Linked DNA regions of Homo sapiens: regions 1, 2, 3 and 5 are each linked to region 4. The links come from fine-mapping of genetic effects on gene expression. A gene starts in region 4. Each other region holds a variant in brackets. All regions are shown on one strand. Distances are between the middles of the regions. Region 1 overlaps TNS3 (tensin 3). Region 2 has its middle 21 kb from the start of LINC02902. Region 3 has its middle 13 kb from the start of LINC02902. Region 4 holds the start of TNS3 (tensin 3). Region 5 overlaps TNS3 (tensin 3).

Evidence for each region. PIP is the estimated chance that this variant, and not a neighbour inherited with it, causes the effect. A credible set is the group of variants that fine-mapping cannot tell apart.
Region 1: its variant is the best candidate, but not a certain one, in a credible set for the expression of TNS3 in monocytes after Pam3CSK4 (Quach 2016, PIP 0.87).
Region 2: its variant is the best candidate, but not a certain one, in a credible set for the expression of TNS3 in whole blood (INTERVAL, PIP 0.72).
Region 3: its variant is the best candidate, but not a certain one, in a credible set for the expression of TNS3 in blood mononuclear cells (TOPMed, PIP 0.59).
Region 5: its variant is the best candidate, but not a certain one, in a credible set for the expression of TNS3 in thyroid (GTEx, PIP 0.83).

What each region holds. Positions count from the first base shown.
Region 1 is chr7:47,512,565-47,516,681 of GRCh38, forward strand. All of the region lies in intron 2 of TNS3 (tensin 3), which reads right to left. Among named protein-coding and RNA genes, the nearest start is that of SNORD151, 50 kb to the left of the region's middle. The variant A/G (reference allele first, on the strand shown) is at 2,352.
Region 2 is chr7:47,673,783-47,677,899 of GRCh38, forward strand. No RefSeq gene overlaps it. Among named protein-coding and RNA genes, the nearest start is that of LINC02902, 21 kb to the left of the region's middle. The variant C/G (reference allele first, on the strand shown) is at 1,583.
Region 3 is chr7:47,665,799-47,669,915 of GRCh38, forward strand. No RefSeq gene overlaps it. Among named protein-coding and RNA genes, the nearest start is that of LINC02902, 13 kb to the left of the region's middle. The variant G/A (reference allele first, on the strand shown) is at 2,222.
Region 4 is chr7:47,580,049-47,584,165 of GRCh38, forward strand. TNS3 (tensin 3) reads right to left here and starts at 2,063. Exons shown (of 31, transcript NM_022748.12): 1 at 2,003-2,063. RefSeq lists enhancers at 1,399-1,936, 1,937-2,474.
Region 5 is chr7:47,329,708-47,333,824 of GRCh38, forward strand. All of the region lies in intron 20 of TNS3 (tensin 3), which reads right to left. Among named protein-coding and RNA genes, the nearest start is that of SNORD151, 130 kb to the right of the region's middle. The variant T/C (reference allele first, on the strand shown) is at 1,669.

The DNA of each region.
Region 1 (4,117 bases), 67 kb before region 4:
ACAGATATACAGCACTCTGTGTTGTATGAAATAAACTTTGTGACCGACAGACATGCGCGGTGGCCTCATCTATAGGAGAGAAAATGACACTGGAGAGAGACCTCACAACTCAGACAGAAAGGAGGAGCCAGACAACAAAACTGGGAAAACTGGTTACTCCATGAAAAACATCATCATAATAATAACAGAAATACCATGAATTTCAGATGCATCAATCATAGAACTGATTCGGAATTGGAAAAGCTGAAATGAATTATTAGAATAAAATATCAGAGAACATCTTTGTGACTTTGGAAAAGGGCAGACATTCTACAACAAGGAACAAGAGTATGAACTAAATGAAAAGATGAGTAGATCTGAACAAACCAAACATTACAACTTTTGCGTGACAAACAGGCCACAAACAAACTTAGACAAGCAACTGACTGGAATGTTTGCAATGTACAAAGTGGAAAGATAAGAAACTGACCTTTTCTGAGGACAAATGTCATTAGAAATTGGCAAAAGTTCTGCCTAATATCACAGATAAGATTTAGTATTCATAATATAGTGAAGTCTCAGAAATTTAAAAAAATGATTTTTAAATTTATTAATTTTCAAAATGTTATTTATTTTTTTCTTTTTAGAGATGAGGTCTCACTGTCACCCAGGCTGGAGTGCAGTGGCATGATCATAGCTCACTGCAGCCTCAAATTTACAGGCTGAAGCAATCCTCCTGCCTCAGCCTCTAGGGTAGCTGGGACCATTGGCGCGTGCCACTGTGCAGGCCAATTTTTAAATTTTTTGTAGAAATGGGGTCTTGTTTTGTTGCCCAGGCTGGTCTTGAACTCCCGGTTTCGATCGATTCTCCCGCCTCGGCGTCCCAAAATGCTGGGATTACAAGCATAAGCCACCTCACCACGCCCTAAAATAATCTAATTTTTAAATAAGCAATGAACAAAGGATTTGAAAGGCTACTTTGCTAAGTAAACAGAAATGCTGCAGGCAGCTTTTTTGTATCTTTTTAGATGTTCAACCTCATGTAATCACCAGATGAATGAAAAACATAATAAAAAGGAGACATCACTTTTCATCCATCAACTTGCAAAAACTGAAAAGCTGAAAAATCTCAAGTGAGAGGGTCAGTGACATTCCATGCAAGTAGGCTCCACCAAAAGCGTTTTCCTGTGAGGAGCCTGAACCTTCTCCAGCCCAGCTTACCCTCCGGCGTCTGAGCTGGTGTGTGGCAGGCCCCTTCTCGTGGCTTTGCCTGAACACTCGGCTCCACAGCTGACAGTCTGCAAACCACACATCAGTTCCCTTGTCAGACGAGGTTTCCAGACTCATGTTTAAGAATCCTGGCTCCCGCTGCAGCAGTTACAGCCCAGAGCTGTCTGGCTTGCAAACGCCCAACATTTTTATATGTTGTCTTGGAACTGCTATTCTTCACAACGTCTCCACGAGCCTTGGGAATCCAGGCCACTGTCTTACAGGGTTGTCAGAATCTTTTATACAACACTCGAAACATATTGACCAAGTTATAAACAAGCCTGTGAGTCACCCTCTGCTTCTCCTAGCATCAACTGTCAAGTTTGCCAGCCTCTCTGTGTCCCAGTAACAGGCTCCACAAGGCAGGAGGGGACTGATTAACCCACAGCGGGGGACCGCCAGACAAGGCCTGCCCAATGCCCACATTCACTGCTCAACCCCATGACCCCATTGTTGCCTTGTTAGTTTTAAATAACTACCATGTTCTCCTGAAGTCCTAATACTGCACCTGGCCCAAAGCAAAAAACACACACCTACCGACCTGCCCGTCTATCTCCAAACCTTTATCTGTAATCACTTAGTGTATTGCTGACTCCGATGGACTCAAAGACAGGACACAAAACTCTCATCTTTCTCTCCTAGCAGGTGCTTAATAATGTTGGGTTAACTGCGTGGAACAACCCATTACCAAATCTTTCTTACAAAACTCCCTTCATCCCACTTTCCCTCTGGTCTCCTTTCTCAGCTTTCTCCTTGCTTCTTTTCTCCTTTCTCCTTGCTTCCTTTCTCAACTCTCATCTCCTTTAGGCCTTCCCTACAGCTGTCTCTCTTGTTGCAGCACTTCTTTATTCTGTGCCATCCTGTCTCATTCCATGATAGTCTCGCTGATTCCACTATTAGATCCCAGAAAACCATCTCTCAAATGGGGAGCATTTATGCGTGGTCTGACCCTGGATCCTCCCTGGATCTACCTTCTTCCAGGGACCAAGTCCCACAAAACTTGTAACTTTTGGGGCCGAATCTACTCAATTCCAGAATGCCGAGACTCACCCATAACAGCACCTTCCTCTGTCCTCTGTGAAATACAACCATTTTGGGATATC[A/G]ATGGCAACTGGACCATGTTAGGCCACCCAAGGGAACTCAGTGACATGTAGTGAGAACGGGTTGCCTCAGAGTCCTAACTGATGGTATGAGCACACCAGCAAGGTTTTGAGGAGTGTAAGAAAAACCACAACTGGACACTTAACCCCATTGCTCAATGTCATTTCTATCTTTTCTTTCCCTTACTTAAAGTTCCAAGAGTAGAGATAACAGGGCCCTTACATGTTAACATAACAGTTTTTAAAAGATGAAATGTTTTCTTTCTACTTAACCACATATGAAATTTGCATTTAACTAGGAGGTTAAAATGTGAAAGTCAGGGACCTGAAAGTCCAAGAATGAGCCAGAAAAGGAACGGTAGAAATACTGGCCTGCATCACAGAATATGCCCCTAACCCTTCTCCATCTATCATCACCATCAGTATCATCACGATCAGCATCATCATCACAATCGTTACCATTGCCATTGTTACTATCACCATCAACTACACTATCACTATCACCATCACCAGTCACAGCACTATCATTGCTGTCATCAACATCATCATCACCATCATTGTCACCATTCATCAACATCGTCACCATCACCATCATCATGTCAACATAATCACCAGTGCCATGGTCACCATCAACCACACCATCACCATCATCATCTCCATCAATTACACCATCACCACTCACCATCACCATCATGATCATCTTGACCATCACCATCTTCACCAACATCATACCATCATCATCACCATCCCCATCAACACCATCATCACTAATATACCATCATCATCAATCACGCCACCACCCACCATCACCATCATCGTTACCATCATCACCATCAATTACAACATCATTATCGGCATACCATTGCCACCCTCATCACCATCACTAACAATATCATTATCACCATCGTCATTACTGACACCATTGAACACTTTCTGGAGCTCCTCAGTGTTCTTTGTGTTTCATGTGTATTTACCCTGCTATTCCTCACAATGACTCTAAGCAGAAAGAGGCAGAGCAGGAATGCTGGCAGGCTGTCTCCACCATCCACCTCACCTCCACCACGCTCTGCTGCTTCCCCAGAAATAAGCCAAAGAAAGAACACCTCTACCAAAACGTCACATCACTGTGATGCATGATGACTTACATAATCTATGTAAAGGGAATACCTTGTTGTTTCCAGGTAGCATGTACACAAAGGGATCAAAATGCAAATGTATATGACATATGTGAATTATTAGTAGAGAACACTATGAAATTGTCTATTTGGGGAGTGGTCTCTATATAGTCTATTGAGAAAGAGAAAATCCTAGAGATTAACTACTCTAATGTACAAATTGTAAAGATCACGGCACTGAGGAACAGAAATAGGGTGCAACTGTCCAGGGCCACAGCTTCCTGTGGAGCAGCCCATCCCTGACTCTGCCAGGCTCCCATCTACACTTGCAGTGACTGCCAGGACCCCATCTCAACTCAGTGAGCAGAGTCCTCACATCCTGCCTCTGTCCCATCTAAACTTGCAGTGACTGCCAGGACCCCATCTCAACTCAGTGAGCAGCATCCTCCCATCCTGCCTCTGCCTTGTCTACACCTGCAGTGACTATCAGGACCCCATCTCAACTCAATGAGCTGCAGCATCCCCACATCCTGCCTCTACCCCGTTCTACACCCACAGTGACTGTGCCCGGCTCCCAGCTCCAACTCAGTAAGCAGCACCCCCTACCCTGCTAATGCCCCATCTACACATGCGGCAGCACGTAAGGAGATGGGC
Region 2 (4,117 bases), 94 kb after region 4:
GAGCAACCCGGGCCAGGTGCAGTGGCTTACACCTGTAATCCCAGTACTTTGGGAGGCCAAGGCAGGTGGATCACAAGGTCAGGAGATCGAGACCATCCTGGCTAACATGGTGAAACCACGTCTCTACTAAAAATACAAAAAATTAGCCTGACATGGTGGCACACACCTGTAATCCCAGCTACTTGGGAGGCTGAGGCAGGAGAATCGCTTGAACCTGGGAGGTGGAGGTTGCAGTAAGCCGAGACTGCGCCACTGCACTCCAGCCTGGGCGACAGAGTGAGACTCCGTCTCAAAAAAAAAAAAAAAAAAAAAAAGAAAGAAAAGAAAAAGAAAAATGGAGCAACCGAGGCTCAGAGGGTCTAAGGTGCTGGACGACGGCAACTGCAGGGGCAGACTCCGATTCCCAGCCTGGTGCATCCACCACTGGCCTTCATAGAGATTCTTGGGGGTCTGCGGGGGCCTGCTTTATGCCAGGCCCTGGAGGTATGGCCAGGAACACGACCCACTAGGCTCTGCCTCATGAGCTTACATTCTAGAAGTGGGAGATGGAGGTAATCAGTCCATATGGACGGGGTCAAAGGCCTCTCTGAAGATGCGGACTTTCCTAACACTCGCACCAGCCAGAGGACAAAGCATTCTGGGGGTCTGGGCTGGGAGGACACACGAAGTCCTTACAGTGCCAAAAAGCTTGGTCCCTCCCAGGCTGGACAAAAGCTCATGGTGGTTGGGGCAAGCAGGAGGGGAGAGAGGCAGAGCCAGGCTCTGAGCAGCAGGCAGGCGCCCCACCTCACTGAGCTAGGGCCTATGGGGCACGGTGAGGAGCTGGGTTTTAGTTAGAAGTCAGGTGGAAGCTGCTGGAGGATTTTAGGCAGGGGAATCATAGGGTATTATCAGCTCTACAAACAGAGAATTCAGGTGTTGTGTGGAGAAGGGATTCTGGGGGGCAAATGTGAAGGAAGAGAGGCCAGGTAGAAAAGTGATCAGAGCAGAGCAGAAAACACACCTGCATTCACACGCTCATGCACACACACATACACACATGCACACATACTCTCACACACATGCACACATACCCTCACAATGCTCTCACACAATTGTGCACACATACACACATGCACACATACTCTCACAATGCTCTCACATGCCCCACAGACACACACTCTCTTACAGACTCACACATTCACATGCACTCTCATGTACTCACACTCCCTCACACACACAAACTTTTATACATATTAGCATACACACTCAGACAAACATACACACTCAAGCACATCCCAGTGGTGACTGATCAGTGCAGTCACTGTGCACATTGTAACACAGGAGAGAAACGGCAGCTTTAAGGGATTGTGAGCCAAAGCAATCCTCCTGCCTTGGCCTCCCTAAAAGCTGGGATTACAAGCATGAGCCACCACACTTGGCCTCAATGCAAAATTTTTTTTGTTTTTTGAGACAGAGTCTCTTTCTGTCACCCAGGCCGGGGTGCAGTGGCGTGATCTTGGCTCACTGCAACCTCCACCTCCCTGGTTCAAGTGGTTCTCCTGCCTCAGCCTCCTGAGTAGCTGGGATTACAGGCACCCAC[C/G]ACCACACCTGGCTAATTTTTGTATTTTTAGTAGAGACGGGTTTTCACCATATTGGCCAGGCTGGTCTTGAACTCCTGACCTTGCAATCCGCCCACCTCAGCCTCCCAAAGTGCTGGGATTATAGGCGTGAGCCACCGTGCCTGGCCACCTCAGTGCAATTCTTAAATGACACTGAAAATTGTTAGCTTAGTATGATGTTTTTCCAGCCATACTGGGAATACTGAATTGACTTAATTTATGCATAGGAGGCAACATGCTGCCTGAAGAAAAAGTATCCTAAACCCTAATGGTTCAAGTCATCGGGTATTTCCAAGTTCACCAAGAAATTCAAACCCTGTCCTTCTTTACCATTTGAGGGAAAGCTGACACAGATCTAAATCTTGATGTCTTTCATGTGTACTGCCAACAAGTAAGGCAGCACAGAAGAGTAAAAATGCCTCAGTTTCTCAAATCTTGCTCTTGCGTTCAAATCTTGACTTTGCTGTCTCAGTCTGCCTGTGTATTGAATGGGTGCAATAACAGTTATCGCCCATTCTTTTTTTTTTTTTTTTTTTTTTTTTTTTGAGACAGAGTCTCACTCTGTTGCCTAGGCTGGAGTGCAGTGGCGCAATCTCGGCTCACTGCAAGCTCTGCCTCCCGGGTTCATGCCATTCTTCTGCCTCAGCCTTGCGAGTAGCTGGGACTACAGGCGCCCGCCACCACGCCCAGCTAATTTTTTGTGCTTTTAGTAGAGACGGGGTTTCACTGTGTTAGCCAGGATGGTTTCAATCTCCTGACCTCGTGATCTGCCCACCTCAGGCTCCTAAAGTACTGGGATTACAGGCATGAGCCAATGAGCCACTGCACCTGGCCCAGTTATAGCCTATTCTTTTTTTTTTTTTTTTTTTTGAGACGGAGTCTTGATGTCACCCAGGCTGGAGTGCAGTGGTGCGATCTCGGCTCACTGCAGGCTCCACCCTCTAGGGTTCATGCCATTCTCCTGCCTCAGCAGCTGGGACTACAGGCACCCGCCACCTCGCCTGGCTAATTTTTTGTATTTTTAGTAGAGATGGGGTTTCACCGTGTTAGCCAGGATGGTCTCGATCTCCTGACCTCGTAATCCACCCACCTCGGCCTCCCAAAGTGCTGGGATTACAGGAGTGAGCCACCGCGCCTGGCCAGTTATAGCCCATTCTTATAGCACTGAAGGAATTGTGCAATGGCTATGTAACCCCTGGGTCAAGTGCCTGATTCAAGATGGTGGAAAAACATTCCTTTCCATTCTATAGAACACATATGTATTGGATGTCTTTTCTGTGCTGGGTATAGTGCTTGGTGCTTAGGGAAAAAGCACTAGAGAGACAGATGTGGTTTGTGCTTGTGACAGTTTCATGTGTCAACTTGACTGGGCTAAGGGATACCTAGGTAATTGGTAAAACATTAGTTCTGGTGTGTCTGTGAGGGTGTTTGCAGAAAAGATTAGCATTTGAATTTATAGATGGAGTGAAGCAGATCCACTGCAAACTTCTCTACGCTCTCCTCCAAACCACATGGCACTCCTCTGTGCCGTGAGGTTTTGTCATGTTCGTTATCTGTGGATGTCATAGCTCTGCAGTTACCTGCTATGGTTTGGAAATGGGCTTATTCATCTCTACCATCGGTGCAGTGGCTTTGGGAGATGGGGCCTAGCGGGAGGTGTTTGGGTCATGGGGATGGATCCCTCGTGAATGTCTTGGTACTGTTCTTGTGGTGATGAGTTCTCACTCTGATGAGCCTGGATAATTTCCCACAGAATGAATTAGTTCCCGCAAAAGTTGACTGTTAAACAGACAGAATGCTTCTTGCATTTTGTTTCTTCAGGTGTGTCTTCTTGCCCTTTGACCTTCTTCATCATGTATGTTATGATGCAGCACAAAAGCTCTCACCAGAAACCAGGGCCATGCTCTTGAACTTCTCAGCCTGCAGAACTGTGAGCTAAATAAACCTCTTTTCTTTATACATTACCCAGACTCAAGTATTCTGTTTTAGCGACACAAAATAGACTATGATGGAAGATTGGTATTGAGCAGTGGGGTCTTTTTATAAAGGTACTTGAAAATGTGGAAGCCAGTGTGGAACTGGGAAATGGCCACAGGTTGAAAGAGTTTGGAGGAGCTGGCTAGAAAAGCACTGCATTGCCCTGAAGTGGGCATTAAGGATAATTCTGGTGAGGGCCCAAAGAAGACAAAGAGATTAGGGTAAGTTTGGAATTTCTTGGAGACTAGTTAAGTTATTGTGACCAAAATGTTTATAGAATTATGGACAGTAAAGGCCATTCTGATAAGGTCACAGATGGAAATGGGAAGTATCTATTTGGAAACTGGAACAAAGGTCACACTTGTTACAAATATTTGTATTTATGCCCTAAGGCTTTATGGAAGGTTGAACTTAAGAGGGATGACCTAAGATAATCTGGCGGATGAAATTTCTAAGCAGCAAATCACTCAAGAAGTGGTGTGGTTACTTTCAACAGCTTATGCTCAGTTATGGCAGCAAAAGAATGACCTGAAGGCAGA
Region 3 (4,117 bases), 86 kb after region 4:
TGCTGGGATTACAGGTGTGAGCCACCGCGCCCGGCCACGAGTGCTGCTCTGTTTTCAAGGAGCCGCCTCTGCCAGCTGCTCCTCTCCAGGCCTTCTCCAACGATCTGCCCACTAAAAGGTGAAAACAACAAAAACAAAAACAAATTTTCCCACAAAATCAATTTCTTACATCACAAATTTAATGAGCATGATTATAGCTTGACTGATGGAAAATAAGTAAGCAGGGTCTTCTACCATAATTCATTAGCTAATGCATGTTATGCATGCATGTATATATGTGTGCCCACTTTGTTCCAGACAGGATTCAAAATCACTTACAAAGGAAAATACGATACTTTAGTTAATTGATTCTCTGGCTTTTCTTGGAAATTTGCATTCTTCTTTAGAATATAAAGTGCTGGATTGGCAGCAGAAGAAAACGAGAACAGAACCCCCCTTACCTGCTGCAGGGTTTGGACAGGCTGCTAGGCCTCAGGTTCTCCTGCTGAATGAACCCTTTGTACCATCTGTGCATAACTGACCGGGGCCAGGAGGAACTATGGAAATGCTGCCTCAGCCCGAATGTCAATTCTACATTCCAGCAGAATGTCTCAAACATCACATGTACTTTAAGGGAATTCAGTTTTCAACCAGCTCCTACATGACATCCACCTGCCTTAGCCTCCCAAAGTGCTGGGATTGCAGGCATAAGCCACCGCGCCAGGCCGAGTGAGCCTTCTTGCACGGTACGTATATTCAGATACAATGAAGGTAGGTTCATGATAAAAAAAAATGTTGTTTTTCTTTTCTTGCTATTTTTTTTTTGTCATTGGCATATCAACTTTCAGAATGACCTAAACCTTCAAGAATCATACTGTTAAAAGTCTGTGAAAAATATGAGCCATTCCTGGAATAGTAAGAGTTCAGTTCATGGCAGCGGCTGTGATGATTATTCAGACAGTGCAGTTATGGACTCTAAAGTGCTGTAATCAAACATGGTTAACTGCAAAGGCGGACCTAGTCCTGCTGCAGTCCTCTGGATTGGTAACTCCAAGGAGCCCAAGGGACCAGTTCTTCTGGTTTCCCTATGTGGAGACCCGGGGGCCTTGGCCCTTGGCTGAAGGTGGGACATTGATCTCAGCCTTACAGCACAGGCTTTCCCTGACTGGCCTACAAGGACACAAGCCATGTTGGTCATTCTCACCCATGAGTCCCTTTTTGATGAGTACTGGGGCCTAAGGCTGAGGGCCGTGACACTTCCTAGTGAGTAGGACCTCAGCAGCATGTACTGGTCCTATAAAGCCGACCTGCTGGCTCTGTCCTGCAGGGGCCCTAACATGTACCACGCAAGAAGTCTCACTCGGCCGGGTATGGTGGCTCATGCCTGTAATCCCAGCACTTTGGGAGGCCAAGGAGGGTGGGTCACTTGAGGTCAGAAGTTCGAGACCAGCCTGTTCAACATGGCGAAACCCTGTCTCTACGAAAAATACAAAAAAATTAGCTGGGCATAGTGGTGCATACCTCTAGTCCCAGCTACTCCAGCCTGGGTGACAGAGTGAGACTCTGTCCAAAAAAAAAAAGAAGTCTCACTCAAGGAGGTTGCAGCATTATGGTGGCAGGATGAGGTAACCGAGTTAAAGCTGGGATCAGCCTTCCCTGTTGGAGGTACACAGGCCCTGTAGGACCCCTGGTCTTGAGTCCTTCTCCATTGTCAAACTCAGATACCCTCTTTAAGGCCCAAGTCAAACTTTACCTTAGGGAGAAGGGGCACAGATCTTCCTAATACCTGAGTGTGAGGCAGACCCTCCCCTTTGCTGCTCCCACAGGGCTTTGTGCTGCCCTCAGGAGCATTCAGCCCTGGAGTCTGCAGAGCTGCTGTGCGTGTAGCCTCGCTCTCTTGGTTCATGCAGGCATGTAGCCGACCCTCAGCCGAAACACAGAGCCCATTTTCTCCATAAAGAAAAGGTGAGTTGGCCAGGCGCAGTGGCTCATGCCTGTAATCTCAGCACTTTGGGAGGCCGAGGTGGGCGAATCACGAGGTCAGGAGTTCGAGACCAGCCTGGCCAGCATGGTGAAACCCCATCCCTACCAAAAATACAAAATGTTAGCTGGGTGTGGTGGCAGGCGCCTATAATCCCAGCTACTCGGGAGGCTGAGGCAGGAGAATCACTTGAACCCGGGAGGCAGAGGTTGCAGTGAGCTGAGATTGCACCACTGCACTCCAGCCTGGGCGACAGTGCGA[G/A]ACTCCAGCTCAAAAAAAAAAAAAAAAAAAAAAAAAAGAGTGAGTCAAATGGATGAATGAATGTAGCAAAGGCCAGGAGTAGGCTGTGGGAATTAAGGTTGCCTTTCAGGATCTTTGTGTGAGGAAGAGGACATCAGGGAGTGGGCTCCAGGGACCACTGAACCTGGGGACCGAGGAAGGGGCAGGGTTTGCCGAAAAGTGAGAGCTGCCCTGGCCTTGCCCAGCTGCGCAAGAGGGAGGCTCCAAGCTCTATCTGAGCAGTAGCAAGGAAAGGGCTGGACTGAGCCAATGGGGGTCAGCCTTCTGGCTTTGTTTCACTGTGCAGTTGTTGAGTGCCTAATGTACACCAGCAACAATTCAGGCCCTTGGGGTGCAGCAATAGGAGATGCTCCTGGAGCCAAGAGGATACCGACGGATCCCCTCCAGGCCAAGTAGTACCTGCAGCTAGGTCCATTCAACTAAACCAGATGAGTGTCATCTAGGTCTGTTTGTCCCTAGGGCATAGCAGATGCTCAATAAATACTTGCTTAATGAATAAAAGTCTCCTAATAAAAATAGTAGTAGGAGCCAACATCATTATTGAGTGCTTCTCTGTATCAGGCATTGTTCTAAACTTCACATGAACTCAATCTTCTTAACAGCTTTCATGATGAAGGCCGTAGGATCCCAACTTTACCAGTGAGAAAACAGAGGCATGGAAAGCTAGAGGAATTCAGCAAAGGTTATGTAGGAACTATCTTAAGGAGTGTGGGAGTGAATTCCAAACCTAGCGTGCTTTATCCCGGGCTTGGGTCTGCCCTCGAACCACAGGAGGTAGAAAAAAGGGCACACAGTCTTCATTTTCCGAGGATGTCATAGCAGGTGCTGCAGGCTGGGTGGCTGAACCCTCAGAAATGAATTTCCTCGCAGTCCTGGAGGCAGCAAGGCAGAGACTAAGGTGTTGGCAGGTTTGGTTTCTCCTGAGGCATCTCTCCTCGGATGGTAGATAGCTGTCTCCTCCCTCTTCCCTAAGGATGTGTGTGTAAGCCTGTGTCCCAATCTCCTCTTGTTATAAGGACACCAGTCATTGGATTAAGGCCCACCGTAATGCCTCATTTTACCTTAATTTCCTGGTAAAGGCCCTATCTCCAAAGAAGGTCACATCCTGAGATTCTGGTTAGGACTTCAGTCTTGGAATTTTGGGTAACACAATTCAGCTGGTGACATTGACACAGCCTGGGGCTGCCCAGTTTTCCCAGAAGGGGCAGCAGGAATGGGTCAAAAACCCATCACTCATCAAGAAAAACCAGTTCATGTGTTGAGGAACCGTCTTGTCTGCCGTCCTTCAGAATGAGTGCGCAGTTGTTTTGCTGTTTTCTTGGGAACCAGCTGTGGAACACTGCGCTTCCCTTTCCTTTCTTTTCAAGAACCTTGGTGCCCACCTGGCCTCCTGGAGGACACCTTTGTGCAGAGGCTGCCAGAGATGGAACATAGAGATGGGGGAGGGGAGCAGGTGATGCTGGCCCCTGTTGAAAGAAAGTGGGCAAGAGCAGGGGTAGTTATTTCTCCTCTTACAGAAAGGGCTTGCTGAGTTAGGCTTCATGTGGCATTGTGTTCTTTTGAACGTCACTTAAGGCATACATGAAGCGTGTGCACATGACACAGCCCAGTGGAGCCAGGGAGTGACTCAGCCTGCTGCCCAACACCCACTGCAAGTTGTTCCTGTGGCTGCCTCTAGCTGTTCCCCAATCTGAAATTTGTTTTTCGTTTTCCTTCACTTAAAAAAACTTGTTGGCCGGGCTCGGTGGCTCACACCTGTCATCTCAGCACTTTGAAAGGCCAACGAGGGAGGACTGCTTGAGCCCAGGAGTTTGAGACCAGCCTGGGCAACATAGAGAGACCCTGTCTCTACTAAAA
Region 4 (4,117 bases):
TGGGGCTACTAGTTTTTCTATCTTGGTAGTTTTTTAAAGACATAATTCAGCTGAGCTGCTGATAGCTATGGCAGCCTCAGCTGAGGAATCGCTGTCTGGACATGCATTAGAATTCAGTCGACAGACGCGCAGCAGCAGCCAGGAACAGGGGTCTGGGACCCTAGAGTCCTGTCCCAGAATCCCAGGCTGCACTACCACCATGTTTCATTTCATCTCGGCCAAGTTACTTAGCCTTCCTTTGCCTCAGTTTACTCGTCTGTAAAATGGGGTAATCATAATCCCAACTCCCTCCAAGGAATGTAATTTGGGTGAAATGAAATGAATGCATGCAAAGCATTTAGCACAGGCAAACACTCAATCGGTATGCCTGTTACTTTGTCTTCGGGGTCACCATTACTATTCCTAAGGTCAGGAGTCGGGCTTGCTGCCAGTTCCTCCTGTCAATTCCCTGTGTACACACCCCCCACCCCCTGTGCTACCACACCCCCACCAGGACCCAGTGCACCTCCATCTCTGTGTAATGGCCTTGCCCCTCCACCCTCCAGCTGCAGCGACTCCCCACCCCCTCCCTGGCCCTCAAGGCCTCAGCACAGAAAAGCCTTTCTTAATACTTGTTGATTGATTTGCAAATATAACCTCACAGGCCCCAAAGAGAGAAGAACCAGAATCACCAGAACAAGTAAACCTCATTCAAAAGGGAAAGCATGAAAGCAATTTAAAAAATTAATATGCACAGACCAAAGCCTCAAGAAAATCTAAAATGTCAAAGGGTTGGTTAGTTCAGAAGGGCCATGCAATATTAATACAATGAGTTCTGCATTCATACTTTTCAGTATATTTTCAGAGTCCTCCATGATCATGCATTCAAATAGTGAAAAAAATGGGGGGAAAGCCAACCCGGAAGATCAAAGTGTGTGAATGCGCCCCAAGGAAGCCTGGGGGCTTCCCAGGGGGTTGTGACCACCCTCAGTAGTGCTCTCTGCTGGCCCCACACCCTGATGGCGCTTTGAGTTTTTCAACCACGCTGGAGTTCGGGTCATCTGCTGACACTGTCTGGAGAATGCCTGAGGAACGCCTGAATCTCTTCCCGCCACAGACACTCAAATCACTCCAAGCAAAGGACCCGGGACTCACATGTCAGGCCGCTGCACAGCACCGACACAGAGACCCCTGGGCCGTCCGGGACCCTCCCTCCTCCTGCTTGTCAGCGACAGCTCCCGCGTGCCAGGAGGCACATGCCACACAGCTGGCCCCCAGCCTGGGACAGCACCCCCCACCCCAGAATATCCCCCCACCCCGAGGTCCCGTCCTTCAGGGAAAAAAAGGAAGCGCGTAAAGACCCCCTGCCTCCCACCCACCAAAGGGAAAGGGAAAGAGACGCACTGGAGAGCTTGCCTAGAAAAAGTAGGAGAAGGGTCTTGAGCCTGCCCATTGAAGCCCCTAGCTGCGCTCTCCACCTGGAGTCTCGAGACGGAGTCCTAGGGAGCAAAGTCCGCTCGGTCCCGACAGCGACTGCGACATAGCTGCTCCGGTCTCTGCCCTCAGTCCAGGGCGCCCGGGCGCCACGGGTCCCACTCGAGTGGTCCTGCGCCCCAGCCAGTCCCCAAACCCAGCCAGTCAGCGCCCCCGTCCCCGGACTCCGGCGAAGCTGGCCCGCGCCCCAGCCCCTGTCCTGGGACTCCTGCCGAGCCCCCGCCCCCCACGCGCCGCAAACCCCGTACCCGCGCGCACCAAACCCCTTGCCCGTGCGCCCCCAACCGGGTCCCCGCGCTCCCTAACCTGGGTTCTCCCGTGACCCCATCCCCGCGCCCTGAGCTCCCGTACCCCGCGCTCCCCGAACTCTGTCTCCGCGCTCCCCGAACTCAGTCCCCGCGCCCCAGCTCCAGATCTCTGTGCTCCCCAAGCCTCGTTCCTGCGCCCGGAGCGCGAAAGCCCGCGCCGGGCCCGAAACAAAGAGGACCGCGGCGCGTGGCCGCGTTTCCTCCTTCCCCGGCCCCAGTACCTGGGGGAGCCTGAGGCGCGGTCCGGCAGGGCGATGGCCGCAACGAGGCTGGGCTCCGAGTAGCGCGCGGGCGGGCCCGTCCTCCTGGCTGGCTGCCGGCGCCCGCGGCAGGGCCCCCTCGAGGCGGCGCGGGCAATCGCCACGGCCGGCCCCCGCGCCCGCGCCCCGAGCCTGGCGGGTCACCTGGCCTCATCACCCTAACAATGCAGCGCGCCTCCAGGCGCCCTTCACCGGGGTCCCCCGCCCTGCCGAGGTGCGCCCTGGGACCTCCCTTCGCTGGCCGCAGAGAGGACCTGGAATTATCAGACCCATTGAGCAGCCCAGGCTCCAAGTGGTCTGGAGGCTTGCAGGTTCCGCCGGGCCGGTGTTAGAGTACCTGGGGAGGCGGGTTCGGATCCTGGTTCCTGCACAACCAGTTCATTCTTTCATTCAGCGCCTGTGATTAAGGTGCTCTCCGGGAGCAAGACCTACCCTCCCTCCTGTAGCTCATAGCCTAGTGGGAGTCGCGCATACATAAAGGAGCACAGCCGCTCCGGAAAGCCTAGGGTGCCGTAGAAGCCCCTGAAATACCCAGCTAATGAAGGGAGGAGGTCAGGGAAGTCTTTAGAAGTCACATGACTTCTTAAAATGCGCCGGGACAAATGAGCAGAATTTAGGCAAGCCAGGGGAAACCAGAAAAACGATCCCGAGCAGAGAGATTCTCAGAGGAGGAAAGGCCTATAGGTTGTCCATCCTGACTGTCCATCCCTGAGATTCAGATGGCCCTGAACTCAGTCGCTTAGCCTCAGTTTCCCCATTTGTGAGATCGGGGGAATGGAAAAAGTTTGCAGAAATCAGAAGTGCTCTTCCTCCAGGGAGGTCACAAGAGAAATTTCATCAGCGGTTTGTCCTGTGGTCCTTTCCAGGAAAACATCCTCCCCGCCAGCCTCTCACAGAAGAGACCTAGATTTCATCTGCCACGTGGAGCAGGCGGTCTCAGAATCCCACCCGGAGCAGGGTCCAGGGCAAGTCTTGGAGGACAGTCACCAAGAACTGCTTTGGATTCGGGAACAGAGCTGCCTAACCCATCCGCAGCCCTGGGGTCCTGCCCTGTTCCTCTGGCCCCTTCAGGGCAGCGGGGGAAGCAGGGAAAACAGCCTGTCAGAGATGGCAGAGAAACCGAGCAAGAATAATTATCCTGGAAAAGACTTTCAGAAGTAACCACCAGAAACTTCGAGTCCCCAGATCCAAACAGCTGAGAATGTGGGGCCTGAGCCACGCTCTGACTCCACTCCCACCACATGAGGAGAAACAAGAGCTGCTTTTCTGGAAGACTTGAACAACCCCTGCTGTGCTCTGGAAGGTAGTGTCATTTCTCATCCCCAGACTGATCTGGGTATTTATTCCCAGGCAAAGGCTTCATGAGCACCATGCCCCAGCCCCTAGAGATGAGGCAGGCATTTTTCCTACACTCTAGGAGACACCAGGTCAAGAGTCAATGAGATGAGTCAAGGGGTGCCAGGGAAGATGCCATAGGGGAAGGTGGGGAGGAGGTCACAGCCAGCTGGGTTAGGAATGGGGGTGAGGCTGGTACTGTTACGATCTCCTTTGTCCTGATAAGGAAACAGGATCTGACATTCTAGGCAACTTGTTCAAGGTCACCCACCTGGTCAGGCGAAGAAAGTGGGAGGGATCAGGACTATCTGGCCTTGAGGCTACTCTTAACTTCTTCCCAGCTGCCTGCCCACACCATCCACTCTGTGCAATTGGACTAAATCATCACTTTGCTCAACCCTCTCTTCCATTAAGACCGTGGTGATCTTCACACCCAGAGCCAATTACGTGCTATTCTGTGCATCACAGAAACCATCATAATGCCAAAAACCATGTTGGCTGAATGACAACATGAATTTGAGCTTCTTGCAGTGTTAGGGCACCCATTTACAGGAGGTGACACTGTTGTTTGTCTGAGAGCTCACAGTCAGGAAAACTCAGTGCAGTGCTGGGGTTCTCTGACCCTTTGTCAGGGAGCCTCTTCTAAAATCTCTCCAAACTGCTACCCACACCCAAGCCAGATGGCCCCACCGGCCACACTGCCCTTGTTGGGGTAGCAATGGAATGGGATGCCCCAACCAC
Region 5 (4,117 bases), 250 kb before region 4:
CCGTGCCTGTCACTCCCCAAGCAGAGAGGAAGGCGGCACGGGGCGGCACCAGCATGGGGCAGCCAGGCCCAGGAAGGGTGACTGTGACCAGGATGGCACTCCCAAGGGTGGGTCCCATTCCCTCCGTGGAACTGTGGGCTCAGTGACTCGGAGCAAACCCACAGGGATGGGCAGCAGGGAGGAGGAGGCAGGGCATGCTGCTTCTGTGCCCGTGTCACAGCCATGACTGGGACAATCCTGAGTGTGAATCTACAGATTTAAGCATCTTCTGGAGATCTGTTTATCTTTCCTCTCTTGCTTCTTTCTCCTCAGCTGCAGTGCCAGGGACTAAAGTGATTTCAAAGGTGGGCTCCAGGTGGCAGCAAGTCCACTGAGGAAAAAACATTTAAAAATTCTTCCCGGACAGTCTGCTCCCCCCACCCAAACACCCAGAGATCCCCGGGGACGACAGGACCTGGACTGTCCACATGTTGACTCTGCTACAGCCAGGACCACCCACTGCACCTTAGCAAAATCAAGCAGGGGTGCAAATCAGACACCTGGAAGAGGACAGCCCACCCCACCAGCCGGCAATGCCAGGTCTCCTCTCAGAAACACAGGTGCTGGTCTCACGCAGCTCCCACTCTGCGGGCTCAGGCCCTTTGCAGGCATGATGCACTCAGCTCCCTGGAGCTGAGAGACTGTCTCTCTCCTTCCACTTACCCATCAGAAAACAAAACAAACTTTTATCCAGATCCTTCTCTGTGTTAGATGCCAGGAGTGTGATGAAGACTCTGCTCTGGAAATGTCCTGAGGCTGAGGGAGGGAGGGTGACACCAAATCCCAACCCAGGTCCCACTGGGAAGTCACATCCTTCAAATGCAGGTGAGAGCGAGGCAGCAGAAACAAAAGGACGGAGGGAAGGTGAAGCAAGGAGGGAGAGGAGGAACAGAGGGAGAGAAGGGGCAACAGGAGTTTCCCTTTCGGAGGAAGACACAAGCAGACTTGGTTGCCAGAGGGAGGTGAGAAAAGGGGCATTAAACCAAGGAGAAGGGAGGAGCTGGGGCGCCCAGAGAAGACACACGGGAAGGGATGAGCAAGTTTAAAGGTCTCGCAGCCTCCATAGGGGGCACGTCCTTCCTGAGACACGACCTGATCAGCTGGATGGAATTCTCCCTTAACACCCTCCCACCAGCCCGCACTGCCTGTCCACCAGCCTCACGGGTCCTACAGGGGCTGCATCCCATCACCTCCCACATCTCTGTCCCACCGGACTCGGGCGAACCTTATGTGTGCACACAATAAGAGGAACCCTGGACCAGCCCTACTCCCAGCGATCAGGTGATCTGCAGGTACCTTTGAGGACTGGGCACATGACTTAGCAAAGGAACTTCAGATGCTTTATGTGAAAGCTGCCTCAAAGACGGTGCCACTCCTGCAAACTGTGAGTCTCTCTACTACATGCAAGGCAGTTCTCGAAGGCCTGGGAAGGATAGTCAGGGTGACCCACAGGTTCTGTTTTCAGCAACAGGCTCTGCCCCAATAAAACAAAACTAAGAGGGATACTAGAATGCCTCCGAGGGACCAGGCACTGCAGACTGAGATCCTCAGCTTTATTCGAATGTACTTGTTTGTTCCTGAGAATTACGTGCTGGCCAGCACCCCAGGGCGAGCTCTACTCTGGGGTTC[T/C]TGAGACTCAAGTGGAGTGCTCACTTGGGCATTGCGGAGAAGGAATTAAAAACAAACACAAAACACAAACCCTCCACAACCTCAGCGACACTGGGACTTCACAGTAACCCAATCTCATGCTCCTCTGGAAAAATCAAATTCCAGTGAGCTGCTCACACCATCCCTCTGCCAGGTGACACATGGAGACCTGACCTCTGACGCCCATCGCACACTTGGTTGGCCCTGAAGCATCAGAAAAGTTTACTTTCATTCCAAATGATGGAATTCTCACTTGCCTGGCTTTCAGGATTTTTTGTAAACTTGTTCATTTGCTCTTTCTCTACATGTGTGCATATATAAGTGCATGGCCTGTAAGAAGTGCTCAGAAAGTGGCAAATGCCTCAATCTAGGCAGAGCCATAAATACCTGCACACATAACACACATATGTACCATATAACATGTCTACATATGTGTGTCACTAAAATGTGATAGAATTTAAACAGACAACAAGGTGGTTCCTGGCCTAAGTAGGACAGCCTGGCCAATGCCTATCTGTTGAGGAGGTACACTAATCTGGGGGGCACCTTGGTAATGCCCTCAAAGGCTCTGATGGGGCAGGCCCGGGCCAGTAACAAATGTCAAGAAGCAGACTACATATTCCTTCTTCAGCCCTCTCAGTGACTCAAGACATCTGACCCTTCTGCAAGTCTCACAATCCCAGACCCTCCCAAGTGTGTCAAAAAGAATGGGTGCATTTTGGCCAGGAATCACAGCCTGAAGGGACAGTGGTAACAGGTGCTTCAGAGAAAATGCCCAGGCATTTTACCTCTTGACGCCCAGTGCTCTTGGGACACCACTGTGAGGCAGGCTGCTGTCTAGAGGGGATGGAACTGTGGGGAGGTGGATTACAAGGTGAGGGCCTTCGGAGGAAAGTAAAAATGCAAGGGATACCAGGTAAATGCTTCCAGCAGGGAAACATCCTTGCACATTTTATATGCTGGGGCTTCATAAGCATTTTCTTCCAAGCCATTCCCAGTTCTAAGAGGCATCCTGCTGGGCTGAACTGCCTTTTCCTGTTCAAAGCAGCGAGGAGGAGACAAGCCCAGGCTCAGGCCCGAGCTGTGGATTCCGGATTCCACACCAGCCACAGGCTGCTTCAGAAGGGACCCCAGCCCGCGAGCTGCCCCAGGGCCAGGACCGCCTCCCTTCCTCAATCCCGGGATGGAGCACAATTCTCATAGACAATGGGGCTCAGAAAATGCTTGAATAAGGAAGTGCATTTTGAATTTAAAAAATGAAATTTTAAGACAAATTTTTGTTACACTACCGTATTCACAGGCTGAAATTTTCATTTTTAAGAGACTTCCCCCAACACCATGCATGGCACACATATTCTTATTTTACTTAGATTTAAAAGATGCTTTCAGAGGTTATGCAAACTGTTCAAGATCACAGAGCTACAGACGGGCAGGACCAGAGCCACATCTGTCACCAAGCCCCAGGGCCAGCATCAAATCCTGTTAGCAGCACTTCAGAATAACTTCTACATGCTGAGGGTCAAGAACAGTCCACCAGGAGAGGAGGGGGTAATGGAATGAGCTGATAAATAAATTTAGAAAAGCAGATTCCTCTAAACCCAAAGTGAGCAAACGAGAACATTCAGCATGGTAGAGAAGTCTGCAGGCTGACATGGGGACACTTCCAAGCTGGCCTGCTCCGCGGATGAGGTGTCAGCACAGAAAGCCAACACCTTTTTTTTTTTTAGCTTCATCACCCTCAAATGAATTCATGTTCTCATCTCAAAAGACCCCTAAAGGCACATTCACAGGCCAGCACTTTAGGCTGACCTCCACGAACCCAGCACTGATGTTTACTTTTAAATATAATTTAGAAGCAGTCAACTTTTCTTTTTCATGTTGTTCATCTGGGGCAGGGGTTGGAGGAGGCTGCGATGTTTGCTAATCCACACCAGTTTTTTGGGGTCACCATGCACCAGTGTGCATTCTTTGGCACTAATTGGAATGCAAAGTACATCACAGGCATGTATCCAGGCATGTCTATTCCTATGCACACTTACATATGCCTACGTACCTGAATATAAACCCATGGAGAAATCCATATAGGAATGCATGTGCTTTTGAGGCTCTAGAAAATCCAAAGTAAACAAGGGCCTCTATAAATGTCACACATATTCACATTCAGTACATGCCTTTGTCCCTATTATAAACATTCTCATTCAGAGCTCATAAAAATTCAACAGAAAAGGGAGTCGAGTACAGGAAAGAAAGAAGAAGATTGGTAAAAGCATTGTATCTGTCAATTTTTGAAGGATGACAGCTTTTTCAATAAAAATAAAGCATTGTGTCAAAATAATCTCTCTGTCTCTGTCTTCCTCTTGTCCTCTTCTCACGCTGTGTCTCTCTATCAGTCCCTGGGGCTCTGAAACTATTTCAATAAGAAAGTGCATTC